3 separate regions of the Homo sapiens genome follow, and regions 1 and 3 are each linked to region 2. The links come from fine-mapping of genetic effects on gene expression. A gene starts in region 2. Each other region holds a variant in brackets. All regions are shown on one strand. Distances are from middle to middle. Region 1 overlaps CTNNAL1 (catenin alpha like 1). Region 2 holds the start of ELP1 (elongator acetyltransferase complex subunit 1). Region 3 overlaps ELP1 (elongator acetyltransferase complex subunit 1).

Evidence for each region. PIP is the estimated chance that this variant, and not a neighbour inherited with it, causes the effect.
Region 1: its variant is the best candidate, but not a certain one, in a credible set for the expression of ELP1 in sun-exposed skin (GTEx, PIP 0.87).
Region 3: its variant is the best candidate, but not a certain one, in a credible set for the expression of ELP1 in whole blood (INTERVAL, PIP 0.82).

The regions. Positions count from the first base shown.
Region 1 is chr9:108,957,399-108,963,866 of GRCh38, forward strand. All of the region lies in intron 11 of CTNNAL1 (catenin alpha like 1), which reads right to left. Among named protein-coding and RNA genes, the nearest start is that of ABITRAM, 26 kb to the left of the region's middle. The variant ATACT/A (reference allele first, on the strand shown) is at 3,673.
Region 2 is chr9:108,931,330-108,937,797 of GRCh38, forward strand. ELP1 (elongator acetyltransferase complex subunit 1) reads right to left here and starts at 2,795. Exons shown (of 37, transcript NM_003640.5): 1 at 2,535-2,795. It overlaps ABITRAM (actin binding transcription modulator), which reads left to right and starts at 3,071. Exons shown (of 6, transcript NM_017832.4): 1 at 3,071-3,236; 2 at 4,309-4,360; 3 at 4,979-5,108. The coding sequence starts at 3,158. RefSeq lists an enhancer at 2,038-2,267 and a silencer at 3,018-3,297.
Region 3 is chr9:108,905,874-108,910,873 of GRCh38, forward strand. It overlaps ELP1 (elongator acetyltransferase complex subunit 1), which reads right to left. Exons shown (of 37, transcript NM_003640.5): 13 at 2,432-2,531; 14 at 430-612. Among named protein-coding and RNA genes, the nearest start is that of ELP1, 26 kb to the right of the region's middle. The variant A/C (reference allele first, on the strand shown) is at 2,270.

The DNA of each region.
Region 1 (6,468 bases), 26 kb after region 2:
CATGAGCCACTGTGCCTAGCCTAGGAAATTTCAAATTATATATGTGTGTCACGTTCTGTTTCTCTTGGACAGTGCTGATCTAGAAGAAGAACTGTTACTAAGAGTGAGTTAATGGTACTTGGGAATAGCTTTATGATTCAAATCATTTCCTTGTAATGTCAAAATTGTAAGGGAATTTTATTAATTAATGGCTTTCTGATTTCAGAATGGTGAGGGGAAAAAACTTAAAAAGGAAGAGGCTATTTTCATGCCTTGGCTCTAAGCTCTGATGTGAAAAGTGCTCGATTTAGTTGCAATATTAACAGAAGATAGTCTTCCGGTCACTCAGAATTTCAAAATTCACCATCTATCTTAATTCAAAGTCTGAATCCTGTCCATAATATCCTTTAAAAAGTGCTCTTAGCATATTATAAAGGGCACATTAAACAGAAGTAGGAACCCGGGCATGGTGGCTCATGCCTGTAATCTTGGCACTTTGGGAGGCTAAGGCAAGTGGATCACCCAAGGTCAGGAATTCAAGACCAGCCTGGCCAAAATGGTGACACCCCATCTCTACTAAAAATACAAAAATTAGCCAGGCGTAGTGGTGCATGCCTGTAGTCTGTTCTTTTTTCTGTTTTTTGTTTTGTTTTGTTTCAGCCTGGGTGATAGAGCAAGACTGTCTCAAAAAAAAAAAAAAAAAAAAACAAAGTGGGAAAGTACTAAAAATAAATAAATAATAAAGAAAAAAGAATTTTGAATTTTGAAAGGGCACTATCATTACTTAAATGTCATCAGCTACAGGAGTAATCTTGTATTATCTAACTTAGTAATCATCTATAGTGCCCATGGCCCTAAAATGTTCATATTTACTCTCCACAAGTTGGGGCAAAACCAACTGTTTCGGTATCTCTTATATCTCTAAGATACCACAGAGTTAAAGCAAGTAGAATGTATAAATAAATGCATTGAGAAATAAATCCAATGAAAAGAAAGCTTTTATGTAACCTGATTTGCTACTATTTTCATCCACCTAGTAGTATTTATCACTTGATAGTTCTAATCCCTCTGGTCCTCTTACAGATACTTTGTTTTGCTTCCTATTCCCATCCTTTAGTTAGACTCTGCATGATTTATACGAATTTGAGGATAATTGCAAAATTGATCATTTTTTCAGATAGGCCTCCTCCACATACTATGCAGGTAAGATTCTTCCTCTTTCCCCCAGTTCCAACAGAAACCAAACAAGTTGACAATAACACAAGAAAAAGCAATCTAATACTAACAAGAGATCTAAATTATAGTTAATTATAGATGTTATTTCCCAATTTTTTTATAGATGTTATTTCCCACTTCTTTTTTTTTTGAGACAGAGTCTCACTCTGTCACCCAGGCTAAAGTGCAGTGGTGCAATCTCGGCTCACTGCAACCTCCACCTCCTGGGTTCAAGCGATTCTCGTGCCTCAGCCTCCTGAGTAGCTGAGTAGCTGGGACTACAGGTGCACACCACCACGCTCGGCTAATTATAGATGTTATTTCCATGTGAATCTAATTATTGCCGTTGATTCTAAGCAGAAAAAAAAAAAAAAAGAATAAACTGGCTCAGCCAGGCACGGTGGCTCATGTTCATAATCCCAGCACTTTGGGAGGCCAATGCGGGAGGGTTACTTGAGGCCAGGAGTTGAAGACCAGCCTGAGTAGGCTGGGCATGGTGGCTCATGCCTGTAATCCCAGCTCTTTGGGAGGCTGAGGCAGGCAGATTATGAGGTCAGGAGATCGAGACCATCCTGGCTAACACGGTGAAACCCTGTCTCTACTAAAAATACAAAAAAAAAAAATTAGCCGGGTGTGGTGGTGGGCGCCTGTAGTCCCAGTTACTTGGGAGGCTGAGGCAGGAGAATGGCATGAACCCGGGAGGCAGAGCTTGCAGTGAGCTGAGATCACGCCACTGCACTCCAGCCTGGGTGACAGAGCGAGACTCCATATCAAAAAAAAAAAAAAAAAAAAAAAGACCAGCCTGGGTATCACAGCGAGACTCCCATCTCTGGGGGAAAAAAATTAAAAAATCTGGGCATGGTGGCCAGCACCTGTAGTTCTAGATATGTGGGAGGATCCCTTGAACCCAGGAGTTTGAGGCTGCAGTAAGCTATGATCACACCACTGCACACCAGCCTGGGTGACAAAGTGAGACCCTGTCTCCAAAATATAATAATAATAATAAAATAAACTGGCTAAATTATGTTTAGCTGTTATATCAAAGAAGTAGCATAAACAAAACTCTATCATATTATAAACATTAAAAATAGTTGGAAAAACAGGACTATTTGGAGAAAATATACTTAGTACAGATCTGATATATAGAATTGTCTTCAAAGCACTGTCCTCAACGAGGTATTGTATGTTTAATACTCCCTAAATCCTGTTTAGTCAACACTACAATTGTGCCATCTTCTGAGTTTATACCTTCAGATAAATTAAGTTCACAATTAAGTTTAAAGGCCCTCTCATCTTAAGGGAGCACTAAAATTATTTCTTATGAAAACCTAATTGAGAAATGTTCTCAGTTACAATATATAGAGCCTTTCTGTATATCTACAAAATAAATCGAATTCCCCAAGAATGGAAAAGCCTTATCATTTCACTGAAAATGTGCTAAATTATCCCTGATTCACATTTCTTATAATTAGCTATCTTTAGTTCTGGAGGCACTCTATATGGTATGATCAATCAAAAAATTAATGTCCCCAGACCCACTTAAAATGAATCCCTGACCACTAAAGCATAGGCAGCTTATCAGCTAAACTCAGGAGCAGGAATGAGGTATTCTAATCTAAACCCAGCTATCATCCTCCAACTCCTCCCTCTCCCTCACCTCTATATTCAATTGACCAATAAACCCTACCAATATTAGTTTTTAAATTCTTCTTAGTCCCCTTATCTTCATCTTGACTATCATCACCCTAGTATAGACCATCGTCTCTTCTCTGGATAGATCACTCCCTTGTTGCAGGCTCCTACCATCCCCAAACAAACTCATCTTTACCCACGAACATGTTTATCTTCCTGTACCCCCATTTTTAGTGGCATCCAATCTGCCAAACGATAATGTAAATGCAGGGCTATGAAATAGGGCTGCCAGGAAAATGAGAAAAGTAGTTACAGAACTGAAAACCAAATTAAGATTCTTGGCACGATTGTGATCATAACTGCCCTACATAGTTTAGTTAGAGCTGCATCTCTATAAACTGAAGCGTAGTCATATTTACTCTGAAATGATTGAAATAGAACAAAGGGAATTCAGCTTCCTTAAAGGAAGGATAGAGACCGCAAGCTCTGAGATAAGGCTTTTTTCTGACACTTATTATCCAAAATAATCTCAAATTCTAAACTGACACATATTCACCACTAAGGAAAAGTGGAGTCTTTTAGGTGTGGTCCCTTCTAATACAAGGACCACAGCCTCCCTGGAGGTTTGGGTGAGAAGGCAGAATGGGATGAAAGCAGAAGACAGGAAGACAAGTATTGATTTTTACCTTCTTGAAACAATCCCAGGAGGTCCTAGTGTGAAATTTCAGTGTCTGGGGTTAAGGTGGACAATGACCTAGGTCTCAGACTAACTTTTAGCATGTGAACACTAAAGCCTCCCTCCTATTGCTTAGCGTGATGTTTACCACTTAGTTGGATGGTTGAATG[ATACT/A]TACAAGTATGCCTGGTAGTTTGCCAATCACAGGAGGCAAGTTATGCAGAGCAGAACTAAGGTGGCTAGAATACAGCAAAGGCTTTTCAACAATAGTCATAACAGGAGTCATAACAGCAGCAAAGAGAAATCAGGACCTGAAGAATACACCTTTGTATGGAAAGCAGTGGGCAGGTGCAAGGTAATGAGCAGGTTTGTCACATCAACCATGCATAACAGGAAGAACAACACTGTGGCACTGGATTCAGTTCAGTCAGAATGGTTAACCCAGAGATGGACTTCTTTGAGGAAAAAGCTATGCTCATGAGGTTCATGATAAAAATCAGGACAAATAAAGGCAGTACACACAATCAACCAACTCCATCTCAGTGAAACCTACATAAACCCTTCCTGAACAGAGAGGCACTTTCCCAGTGAAACAATAAGTGTCTCATTGACTGAAGGCTGAGGCGTTTCCCACGTAAGAAGGAATTTCTGTTCAGTCCTTAGGAAGTTTGGGTAATGCTGATTTTTTTTAACATAAGTTAACTGAACCTAAAGAAGAGATTATTTACATAATATCCAGCTTGAAAGTAAAAGAAACCACAGTGCTCACATAGTCTGAAAACAGGCATAGGATGTGCAAGCAGTATTACACATTATTTCATTTACATCCATTGAAATAAAGAAACAAACTCAAAAGGGCAGGTAATGTGCCCAGGATTCCATTACTAACAGATTGTTTTACCTCTTCTGTAATTTAGCTGGCCCCATCCTCAGCCAATAAGTGGACCAACCAAAACAAGAATACAGTCATTACTTGTTCCTTGCCCTGTACTTCCTGGGATCTCTCAGTCATTTCTGAAATAGCTTTGGGAGGGAAAAAAGCAGAACTCAGAGCTGCAGTTGTGAGCATTTTTCACAGAATTGGTTCATTCTCATTAGAAAACTTTAGGATTGGAGTGGAGTTTAACTGCTTGAGTAATAGAGTATGGGTAGTTAATAAAATTTCATCTTTGGCATCATTCAAACCTCAGTAAGGGTCCCAGCTCCTATAGTTTACTCACTGTGGGATACTTCGAGCCTCAGTTTCATCATTCATAAAATGTGGAAATAATACCTGTCTCCAGGGTTACTGAGAGGATTAAATGAGAAAATGGACATCCAGCACTTATGAAAGTACCTGGAACCCAGTACATTCTCAAGAGATGGCAGCTACTATTATTTTTATGGTTATAATAGTCACGGGCCTCTGAAGGATCATGTTTACAATTTTACCCACAAAGACCCTAGTAGCCTGTGGCTTTTACTTTTCCTTAAACTTCCCTAGCTATTTTTTTTAAAGAGCCTAACTTTGGTAGAAGAAAGGCAAATCTCAGAGACAGAAAAGGAGAACACTGAATTAATGTTGCATTAGATGTCCGGTGAGAGGAATCTTTCAGAGGGTGTCAGTTCACCATTGGAGAAGGGATGAGCTTCATTTGTACAAAGAAGCAAGGAGTTTACCTTTGCTTCTGCAGATCTAGAGGTTTTCTACGGTGGGGCCAGACTGGCTAGTCCTCCCTAGAGTAGGAGAAAGGACATAGGGAGAGATGGATGCCAGAAAGTAGGAGAGATTGAGATTAAGTAAGAGAAATTGGACCTAATGTTTTCTCATAAACTATTTAGTTTTACCACAAGGTAACAGTGGTCATGATGCTGATGCTGATAGAGGTAACACTTGTTGAGAATTTACTGTGAATTAACTTATTTTATTTAATCTTCACACTTACCATATTAGGTAGTTTTGTCATCATTATCCCCATTTTGCAGATGTAAAACTTGAAGCATAGAGAGATTAAGTTAGGAAATAGCAGAGGCAGGATTGGAACCTAGGCAGTCCACTTCAGAACCTGTATTTCAACTTCTACCCAATTCTATCCCTAACATGAGATTAGCACTCAGATCTCAGAGGAAGGAAGAGACCCCTTGATGGAAAATGCAACTTGGGTTTGTTTTCTGTTTTAAGGAAAAAAATTACTTATATTTATAGAAAGAAAACCCCCTTGCCAAGCTTATCAACCTCTAATTGCTACCGTAATTGCTACTCAGAACATCGCCTGGGATTAAGGCAGAGAATAACTGTTAAATGACTGCTATCTTTCTTGAGAGGGGGGAAAAGCCTGTTATAACTCCTCTTCTTATGGAAATAAAAGAGAGAAGAAAATAGACCAAAATGCTGGTAGAACAGCCCGATTTAGAAACTGCGAGCATCTCAAACACAAAGAGGAAGGGGGCTCAGGCCCTTGGTCAAGAAAACTAGAACCATATCCATTTCAGATGATGATGAACTCACTGGCCTAGGGACATGGAAGAAGTACAAGTAATGAAAACTCAGCCATAGCCCATGTTTACAAGAATGAAAACACAAACCTCTTCAGCACTGAAAACACTATAGGAGATACCTGTACTAAGCTCAATGGTGTTCTGGTAAAGAGGAGAATCAGCTGGCCAGGATTGATGCCATATTCTTTCCAGAATGGCTGCAGCTATTAGTAAAGCTTCTCACAGTGCACGTGGAACACGTTTACAAGTACATAAAGTCAGTCACATGCCAGAAAAATAGCCATCCTGTGGCACTCCTCCAGCCTCCCTACTGGGCTGATGTCATGGGCTGATGACAACTGATAAAGCCAGAAGACAATATTCCTCTGGCCTTTAAAGAGAGCCAGCCAGGATAAAGACACAGTGCAGGGTATATTCATGCCCAGAAGTCGAAAGTACACTAACTTCAGGTAGTGCTCACAAAAGACTTTTAGAGCTGACAGGTCACT
Region 2 (6,468 bases):
TACACACCCATGTATGGATTATAGCAGCAACCTGACCCACTCTATACAGTTATGGTCTACAAATTAGGAATTCTGAAACCTATTTTATGTTCTTTTTAGGAGAGGCAAGATTCTCAACTTTAGAATGTTTTCTTCAAAAAAGATGTAATATCAGTTATTCCTTTGGGAAAGTTGAAAGAACAAATGAATGGGGAAACATTTTATTTTTGCATATTAGGACATCTTTATAAAATCATGAGGAAAAACAAAAGGGTATCCCACTGATTAGCACTATTTGAAAATCCATTTTTATATACTGGCAGTTGAAGAGAATCTGAAATGACTTTAATATTCACCAGGTCTATTCATTTATAAACTGGTTTTATACATTCATAAAAAAACTGAAATCAAAGATAGAAAAGCATTTACTGTTCTAAAGGGGAAGAGAAAATACTGGGACATGACAACAATTTACTTCAAAATGATGACCAACATTTCAAGGACCCTGATGACCTGACATAACTACTTCCAGTAACTTTGTTCTTCTGGCCAGGCTTTTCCCAGGACAATATAAAACGTGAGAAAAGAGTGCTAAACAAGACATCTACTTTGGTCTGGCAAAATCAGGCTTGCTTAAATGCATAACATTACCTAAGTAGGGGAAAAAAATGTTACTGTGCTAGTTATTTATATTCAGATCCCTTTAAGGCTTATGATTGTAAGTCCCTAACTTATGTTAGGGGTAGCAATTACAAGGACCACACCGGTCTTATTGTCACTTTAATCCAAGGAGACTTCTCTCATCTTGGCACCCCACATATGTATGACATAGAAAGAATAAAGATGAATCAATCCTAATAGTACACAGAAGATAATGTCAAGTGTCATAGGAATTATATAATATATAATGTGGGATAAGAGAAAGGTAAGTTTATATATGATGGAAGTGAGGAAGACAATGATTTTAGTAAGTTTTGGTGACAATTATATTCAAGAACTGCTAGAAATTACTTGAACCTCTAACATATCATGCAGGTTTTTTTGTTTTTTGAGACGGAGTTTCGCTCTTATTGCCCAGGCTGGGGTGCAATGGCGCGATCTCGGCTCACCGCAACATCTGCCTCCCGGGTTCAAGCGATTCTCCTGCCTCAGCCTCCGGAGTAGCTGGGATTACAGGCGCCCGGCACCATGCCCAGTTAATTTTTGTATTTTTAGTAGAGACAGGGTTTCACCATGTTGGCCAGGCTGTTCTTGAACTCCTAACCTCAAGTGATCCACCCGCCTCTGCCTCCCAAAGTGCTGGGATTACAGGCCTGAGCCACCGTGCCTGGCTGCGTTTTTCATCTTTAAACATCATAAAAACGCCTCAAAACTAGTTTCTCTGAAATTTCACACCCATCAGCCTTATTCCCTTATCTTCTCGGAGGAAGACTTCCCTCCACTTCTTTCCAGGCTAGGAAAGGAATATCCTCCATATTGCCACAGGACCTAGGCCTATTAGTACTCTTTCTTGGACATCTGCAACCTCCAACCTTCCTGCCTCCACTGATTCAAACTCTTCGCAGTTCTTAAATGTGCTAAAGATCCCTCCACACCAAAGGTCAATCGTGGATTCTCTCTTAATTTCCTGATAACTGCTTCATTTTCTTCCCTTGCTCCTTCGACTATCCACCTCTTGGCTAGACATCACATGCATGATTACATATACCAGGTAGATCACCAATACGCTGATTAGGCCTAAATGCCTAGCCCTGACTGAATTAGCCCAAACTTACCACTAAACCCACATTTTCAACCTCCTGATAGAATCACAAGCATGTCTCACATGCACATCAAATGCGACCTGGAAAGCAAAGAACTTGCTATTCTTCCCCCAAATGACAGTTCCCACTATTTGGGGACAGACCATTTCTACTCTATGTCCCCAAGCTGAAAAACTGTCTTTGCTGCCTTTTTGCTTACTCTTCATACGGATCTATTCATTGATTAGTTCCGTGGCTGTCAATATACAGTTGAATTCTTTACGATCCGGTTTGTGGCCTACATCCAACACCGACTGAGCACTTGCTAAGTACTGGGATCTGAAGATTACTCAGCCACTGTCTCCACGGAGATCATCGTTAACGGGAGAGAAAGCCACGTAAAACACCACGTTAGATGGAGAAGCACAGAGGACACCACCTCCACGAAAAAGTCTCACACGCGAGAAAGGACCCGCACCACAGCACCCGAGCCTCTATTAACCGCCGCCTTCCATCGTGAATTAATACTCTCGCTTTCAGCGTTATTATCAACCCCCTGCAAGCAATCAAGAGGCTGGGTTAAGTCCGGCTGGAGGGGCAGCAGGCATCCCTGGGCTGTCGCGCCTCCCAGCGCCCCCGATGGAGCAGGTGGCAAGGCTGCAAAAAGAATTTAAGGCTCTAGGAAAGAGGTGGTGCAGCCCGCACTCCAGTCCCCGGCCCGCAGCAGGCAGAGGAGGCTCCGGGTCTCCTTCACCCGGACACCGCCGGCGGAGAGGTCCACTCCCGTGCCCCTACCCTGGATGGATCGCTTACCTGAGGACCCCCAAACAGAGGTGCGTCCGGCCTCGCCTCCCCAGCCACGCGCAGCCGGCTACCCAGAGTCAGCTCCCACAGTCCGCACCCAGAGTCGGCTCCGAATTGCGCACGCGTCTCTGTCCGCGGCTCCCGCTCTCTCTCCGACGGCACTAGGCCTCCAAGGATGGAGGCGCCCTCCAGGGGAAAACGCTGAAGCGCTGCAAAGAAGCCAGCGACTCAATGGGTGCGTCAACTAGGCAGCCGCAGCACTGGGAGTGCGGCGCGGGAGTGACGTCACCAGGCGGAGGGGGCGAGGCCGGGCCCGCTTCTGGTCACTTACGGCGGCCGGCCTTCTTTGTAGGCCTGGCACCGTAGAGGTAGAGGAGCTACATTGGCCGCGTCCCCTGTCCCTCTGCCCTCTTGCCCATCTGCCCAAACTTTTGTATTTGATCTCTGTTTTGATGTCGAACCCCAAAGCACTGTAATTGGGGGGGGCGGGGGGGGGGGTGGAACCTGCGGACCTGAGAGCAGCGCGCGTGCGCACGACACGCGCTGTGCGCCGGAAGAGCACGCCCAGTCCGGGCTGCGCGGAGGAAGCGCTGGGGTCCCGGAGGGCGGGGGTGGCGGCGCCGGAGGTCGCCATGGCTACCGAGCCCGAAGCCGCGGAGCCGGTGGTGCCTTCGCTCGTGGATCGATACTTCACTCGCTGGTACAAACCGGGTAAGTGCGGAGTGATGTTGATCCCTCCTTGGCCGCACTGGCCTAATGCTGTGTAGACTATGTTGACAGATCATAAGCCACGCGCGCTCTCCCTGGCTCTCCGTCCCCACGTCAGAAGGCACTGGACTTCTGTGTTCCGTCTAGCCCCAGGGAATGGCATTTGCAAAGACCTGGTGGCCTGAAATACTTCAGGGCGCATTCTGGGGCCGGCGATTGCAGTGCGAGCTCTAGGGTGTTGCTCGCAGTAAGATGAGTACTCTAAACGGAGGCCCCAAAGGTAGGCGGAGGGCTAGGTTGCAACAGTCCTTAAGTGCCTGGAGGGATTGAGGGGCTCACTCTCACAGGGAGTAGCGATACATAAAATTATTTAAATGATCAGATCGAAACTAAGGTAGAGGCAGTAGGGATGGCGAGAAGAGGGTGGGTTAGATTAGAGACATTTAGAAAGAAGAAGAATCTATACATTTACCTTAAGAGACGCCATCTGCCACTTAGAAGTAGGTATTCTTTTTGTACTGTTTTGTGTAAGCAGAACCAGTGGTGGGAGCATCGTTGGGGACTCTCCTTTCTTCCTTTCATTCAGTGATAATGGTTATACTCAGTTTAAAAAATATATATTGTAGCATATTTTCTGTTGGCCAAACATAGGGTGACCAACCTGTCCTAGTTCACCCATGACTGAGGGGTTTCCCAGAATGTCGGACTTGCACCAACATCAGGACAGTCCTGGAAACCACCAACAAAAAATATATATCATAAAGAACGGGATGCTAATTGCATTTTCCTAGCAAAAATACTACGTGTACTCATTTTGAAGTGAGTGTAAAGTAAGATGGAGCAAGGAGTTAATTACCTTAATGTTGAATAAATTATTCTATCTGGGCCAGATCTCTTTAAATACTTTCTAGGAAACCTTTAGGTATGTCTTTTTGAGTAATGAAGGGATACCCGTGATCAGCATGCAGCATGTATGTGTCCAGTCTTCATTATCAACTATATGACCCAAAGAAAGTACCACATAGTGGTAGTAAATATTGATTTCAGCCACCAACAGACTCATGTATTCTTCTAGATGTCAAAGGAAAATTTTGTGAGGACCACTGTATACTACAGCACTCTAACCGGTAAGCAAATTGGGAATTTTAAATTATCAAAAATTTTTTTTTCCTGGTATTGTAGCCTGGTATGGTCTTGTGGTCTTGGATTGAACAAATGTTCACTAAACAAACATGCATTAATTATCTTCTACTGTGTTGAAATGGTATTATTATAGGAGTTTGTTTGGCAAGAATGAGTATTCCAGTGCCTGGCCACTCTGAACATATAAATTTGATTACTCAAACATCCAAATGGAGGACCACATCATCAGCTGCTACTTGAAGTGGCCAGTCTGTGCCCAACTACTGAACTGTTCAGAGCCCACAGAAAGGGCTACGGTAGAGACATGTATGGTATCTCGTATACACAGGCATGCCTTATTTCTTTGTCTTCTACCCCAGTGCTACCTACCTAAAGACCTCTGGTACTCTTCCCTTTCCTGGGAAAGAAATTCAATCTTGTTTTCTCTTTTATTATTGTATTCTCTATTCTACAGTTATGCCCCAATAGTAGCCAAAGGAAAAAGGGGGAAGATGATAGTTTGACTAAACAAATACCAGTTCATACATTCTTGTTCCAATAGGAGTTATGGGAGGAAAAATTATTCCAAGCAATCACACAGGATCAACTTTTTCTCCTTGTAGAATATGTGTCATCACATTGGCAGAATCTCATCCAGTTCTTCAAAGTGGAAAAACAATTAAAAGCATTTCCTATCAGATCAGTACCAACTGTAGCAGACTTCAGAACAAGGTCTCTGGGAAATTTAAGCGGGTATGTTCCTGTAATTCTGTGATTATCTACTTACATCCTCTATATTCATGGTAATGACAGATCCAATGAACCTTAGAATCCAGTAGCATATGCTTAGCATACTTCTCTAGCAGTTTGAGGTGCTAATTTTAGGTATACTTTCACCTAAAGAAATTCTCAGCTCCCCCAAATTAGGTATCTCAGGAGGTGTAGTATCTGTTATATTAGGTTCTGTGCTACTATCCCTATAATGCCCAGGATGGAGGAGGGGGAAGGCAGGCCTTTGAAAGGAGAACTCTAATAGCAATATAACAAGATATTTTGTCCCTTCTAGTTGTATTAAACTAGTATGTCGAGTTCTGTAAAATTTAGGTGACTAACTCTTCTTTACCATATATTTCCACATGTAAATTAAACAGAAAAAAAATTCCCAAGGGAGTTAGAAAAAAAAAAAGAAAAACATGGGCCGGTCACAATGGCTCACGCCTATAATCTCAGCATTTTGGGAGACCAAGGTGGGTGGATCATGAGGTCAGGAGTTTGAGACTAGCCTGGCCAACGGGGTGAAAACCCATCTCTATAAAAATACAAAAATTAGCCAGGCACAGTAGTGGGCACCTGTAATCCCAGCCACTCGGGAGGCTGAGGCAGGAGAATGGCTTGAACCTGGGAGGCGGAGGTTGCAGTGAGCTGAGATCGCACCACTGCACTCCAGCCTGAGCGGCAGAGCAAGACCAAGACTCCGTCTCAAAAAAACAAAAACAAAAACATGAATACGAGAAAATATATTTGCTCCTTACTGTTTTTCCATTCCTAAAGCATTGTCAATGTAATACTCATGTACCCACCCCCTGTACCTGCACACAACACTCGGTTATATAGAATGCTATCTCTACCCTCTGTAACTCTAGGCAAAATGGACAGATTATTAAAAGAGTATCATGCCAAGGAGAATTTAGTGACATGTTAAAATGTCTTAACAAACCCACTGGTTGGGAAAGTTTCTGTGGATGATTTAAGTCGTTCATTTACTGAGTTCATACTAAGAGTTTCTGCTAATTGCTCTCACTATTCTAGGAGACCCTTATTCAAACCCCCCTTTGTAGGCCTGAAGTCCCCTAATAATTACTGATTTATTGTGCTTTACAATTACTGATTTTTCCTCACTCAAGAAACTAGTGGACTTAGAAAAGCATGCACCTCTCTTAAACGATAGTCTACAAGTTACAATAACACTTAAGACTTCTGAAGTTTCAATGATAAATCTCTGTCCAAAATAGTAACACTTAAGGCAGGTACAGTTGCTCATGCCTGTAATCCCAGCACTTTGGGAAGCCGAGGCGGGAAGATCACTTGAGGCCAGGAATTTGTGACAAACCTA
Region 3 (5,000 bases), 26 kb before region 2:
CACACACACACACACACACACACACATATATGCGCATGACTGCATTTATACAAAATTTCTTCCCATCACATTAGCCCATGAGAATTAGCCACTCTAATTATGCTTGACAGTTATTAAAATCAATTATAACATATAACAATCACGCTGGAAAAATGTGGGTAGATGCTAAATTAAAATATTTAACATATCTTTAAAAAGTTGCTTCATCTACTAATATTTATCCTATTTTTCACCACTTTTTGATATATTTTTGGTCTGTTATTTTGACATGGCTCATAACTAGACTTAACCTTCTTGTTAAGTGTGTCTAACAAGAAAGCTACTGCTCCTCAACCTTGATCAATAGAAGTCAAAAGTTGTATGCTCATAAAAGACAAAAACCTAACTCCATTTGCTTAACATGTGGAGTACAGGGAAAAACTGCAATACCTGACATTGAGCTGTCCATGCTCTTCATCCATCTCAGAAGAAGCTGCAGTCAAATGGTGAATGACAGACCGGGGGCTGAACTCACTGTGGCTTACAGCCAGGAAGACGTCTTCTTCAATCCAAGTGAGAAGGCCTAGTTTCAGCGGGTTTACATCTTGATCTTCATTATTCTCAAACTGGATTCTATTGTAAATATTGAAGAATATCCAAGACATGAATAAAACTTAAAAACCACTGAGACGTTCCTGGATGAAGGAAGACTGAAGCATCTTGTATACAGTCCACTCCTAATTATTTGGAGGGACAAAACCTGAGATACTACCAAATACTACAAAATCTAAAATTAATCTTTGTCTGGCTTAAGAATACGTTTTTATATTTTCCCTAAATTTCTCATACCCTGAAATCTTTAAATTTGAAGAGAACACTTGAGGAAACTGACTACACAAGAAAATTACCAGCCCTAGTCCCTACACTAATGAACCCCAGAGCTTTTCCACTGCCATGACTTACCAGCATTCAAACCAGGCTCTGGCAGGTATGTCACTTGCAGTAGAATGGGTCCTTTCCTAAGCACCTCACATTAAACTGACTGACTAGCTTGAGAGATGGTCTCCATGTCTCTAATGCATTCTTTGGTAGCATTTATACACCTGACCAGCGCACTGTTCTTGTCACCTCACGTAGGAACCGACAATGGCTACTTCCTGCCTTTTAGATCAGGTGGCAAATCCGCAGCTCCCACTGAAGAAGTTGGTCACTAGCCTGATCTTCCTCCTCAAACATCTCTCCCCGGACTCAGGCTCTCCATTGCATTCACATAGAGTATCCCATGGAGGATCAGTCCCACCTCTGGTTTTCACTGACACTTTCTTCCCCACCAGACCCAATGTTCCCAATTCTTTGCCAACCCCAAACCTATCCCTTCCCCAAGATCACGATGAGTACTCATGTCTTCTGTGAAATCTCAGACGAATTGGCATTATCCCCATCAATTTTTTTTAAATGAAACTATATTCTAAACTGCCTCATACTTTCTAATTTGTCCTCTATCTCTACTCTAGTGGTTTCAAGTCTATGAAGTGAAATAATGCATGTAAATGCTCTTTAAAAACTACTAAGCATTATACAGGCAGCCTCAAAATCATACAGAGGTTGAACACTTCTGCTGTATTTATTAAATATATCACATATATTTAAGAAACATTATTTATTAAATTCTGCTATTTGTTGTACTCAGTTAATTATTTCTATTAATCTAACAATAAATGTTCCCTGGAGGCAGAGTAGTTTAGTAATGAAGAACATGGACTTATCAAACAGAATAGAATCAAACCCTAAATTCTCTAGTTACCAGGTCCATGACCTTGGGTAAGTTACCTAACCTCTACACTTTGTTTTTTTAATCTGTAAGTACTCAATAAGTGGTACTTTTTAAAAAAGTTCTCTCACAGATGTGGCATTATAATTTGGTTTCTAGGTCATTTTGCAAATGCCTATAGTGTACCTGAGGTATTCAATAACATCCAATTGTTTACAATACTGTTTCAATGGAAGAATGCATTCTGATTTCCATCCCAGGAGCCTCAAAGCACAGCACCCAGAAGTTCTAGATTCTGGGATGGAGCAAAGACAGAGGCTGCATTAGGTCATCCATGTTAACAACCCATACATCCCCATTTATGTAAGAGAATGCAGCTCCGCCTTATCATTGTCATCTCCATCTTTCCCACATGATTTTTCCTGGAGAACCAAGCGCTATTGGGAGTAGGTCCTAGGCTGGCTTACAACTCATGCTCTCCTGCTACCTATCAAATTATATGGCATTCAGACAAACTAC[A/C]TGACTGGCTTCTCCAATCAGATCCGAAAGTCAGGGCCTGGGTGTTGTCTTTATTTCTTGTTCCACTCAGCAACAGGCATAGAACTGTTATCAGATGGCTGAATTTAGGACTGCATGCTGGCTGATTCTGTTCCCAGAAGCCCAAGATAATTAAGAACCTACTTGTATCTCTTTTCCAAATGAGGAGTTCTAAGGCAAACTTTAAATCCACTTCCACCCACAGCTCCCAGTTTCACTGTAGGGTCAGCACTTGGACAATCACCTGGAAAACAAAAATGCAAATATTATCATCGTAAATTATAAGATTTCACCTAATACTAAGGGGATGGTGTCTGCAATTAATGAGTTCTAGAAGGCAAACAGCAATCTAGAAAATAATCACATCTCAACCTCCTTAAAATTTCTGCTTTCCTCTTAAGAACACATCAGTCATAATCTTCCCTGACAAAGGCCACATCTCAGCAAGACCAGGTGAAGGGGCTACCCTCTCAGCCCAGTGCTGTGGACAATTTCCTCCACTGTCTTCAACCACCTCTCAATATCCTCAAATTCTCCAAAGTCCTAAGCACCTGCTTAAAAGACATTTTCTTTCTATTCTTCATCCAGTTTATTCACTGCACAGCAGCCAATGCAAGCCTTTAAAAAATTCAGCCAGAACACTGCACTCCTCTGTTCTAAGCCCTCTGGTGGCTCCTATCTCACTCGGAGTAAAAGCCGCAAGGCCCTACAAGAGCAGATTCCCATCACCACTCTGAACTCACCCACCACCTTCCCCTCCTTTGCTCTGCTGCAGCCACCCTGGCCTCCTGGCTATTTCCTAAACACAACAGGCACTTCGGTGGTTGCTTTTTACTCTGCTTGGAACGCTCTTTCTTTTTTCTTCTTTGCCTTCAAGCATAGAATGCTTGGGACGCTCTTACCCCAGATGTCTGCGTGGCTCCCACTGTGATTCTCACCAGGTCTCTGCTTCAATGTCACCTTCACAGAGAGGCCTTTGGGATCACACTAAATAGGAAAGACACCTTCCCCCTGTAAACCCTTATCCTTAAGCTCTCCCTACCCCTTATTTTGCTTAATTTTTCTCCACAGCACTTGCCATCTGATAGATCATATTTAATTGATATCTTTTGTCTACACCTAGAACAACAAGTTGTAGACAAAGTACAACTAGTTTTCTAGTACAACAAGCCAAGTACTAGAAAAAAGCCTGGCATATAATAAACAATCAAGAAGCAATGAGGGGGAAAAAGGAGTGATACTCAGGATGCATCAAACACCATCTTTGAAAACTTTGGCAACGAACTTGTCTCCACACCACTCAAATGTCTACCACTTGACTCCAAGTTCTTAATTTCCCTTCCACTTGGGCACGGAGCCCTGACCTGTTCCAGTCCAAGATCTCTTTTTCCAGATTCTCTTATATCCAAACTCTCCCCAGTGGGTTCTTTAACTTCTCAGGGTTTTTACTTCATGGATTTGTTATGATCTTTCTCTTCTTTCCATTTCTATGAACACTGCTCTGGCTCAAGCTCTTGCTAGCTCCTGCCTGGACACTTGACAACAGCTTCTCCTAACTAGAATCTCTGCCTCCAGGTGCCCCTGACCTATGGCCAACCCCACATATTGATGCCGAACAATCTTTCAAAAGTGGAGCTCTCAACCTGTCCTATCTCATCACAGGGAGTTTTCTCTCAAGTAAAATGAATGCAGGGTGGTACAGGGTTTCATTCTGAGGAGATAAAAACGTCCTAAAATTGATCGTGGTGATGGCTGTACAACTCTGTGAATATACATATATATACATATACATATGTATATATATTCATACACACACATATAAACCATTGAATTGTACACTTTAAATAGATGAATGATATAAAGCTATTTTTTAAGTGAATGCAGAACAAAACATACCATACATCATAAAGTGACATATAAACTCATTAGCATCATACAGTTAAGTCCCACAAAAGCTTACATCTGATTCTTTTTGCCTTGACAATGAACATATTTGCACTTTTTTTTAAAGCTATTTTGAAAAGTTTAAGGAGGACTGTAACAGCATTTTACACACTGAAACTATAATCAGAGAAACTGGTGATACATCCAGATAGGATCCATGTACACAGTGGGCTGCTGACTTAACAGAAAAGCTGATATGAAAGTAAGGACTTCCCATTTAAATTAATTAATTTTGATTATTCTCTCTTGGCAACTATCTAGGCTTTTTCTGAGAATTCAAAAGATATTTGAAAACAAGGCTAACACTGCCATATGCCAGCAGAATTTATGACATAACCACAGAACTCACAAGTAAAAACAAATTTCAGATTCTCCAGCACATCAGGAAAGTAATGAAGAACTGACAGCAATGGGGCTGTGGCAGGACAAGTGGATTAGGAGCTAGAACACCTGTGTTGAGGTCCTTGTCCATTCTTGTTCAAACAAATTACAAAACCTCTGACACTGTGTTCCCTCATCTACAAAAGAGGAAAACCCCATCTCTGACACAGCTCCTAGGAGGGATGAGATCAACTGAAAATATGTGTAAAGGCTATGAAAAGAGTAAAACATGTTAACAATGTATAACATACTATGTTATTTCCAGAGTCCAATGTTATTCTTAAATAACTGACTCTTCAAGTCAGTAAGGGAAAAGGAATGGCTCGTACAAACCAGTATAGGATTAAAAAAAAAAAAAACAAAAACCCAAGGCAATTAAATATCATAA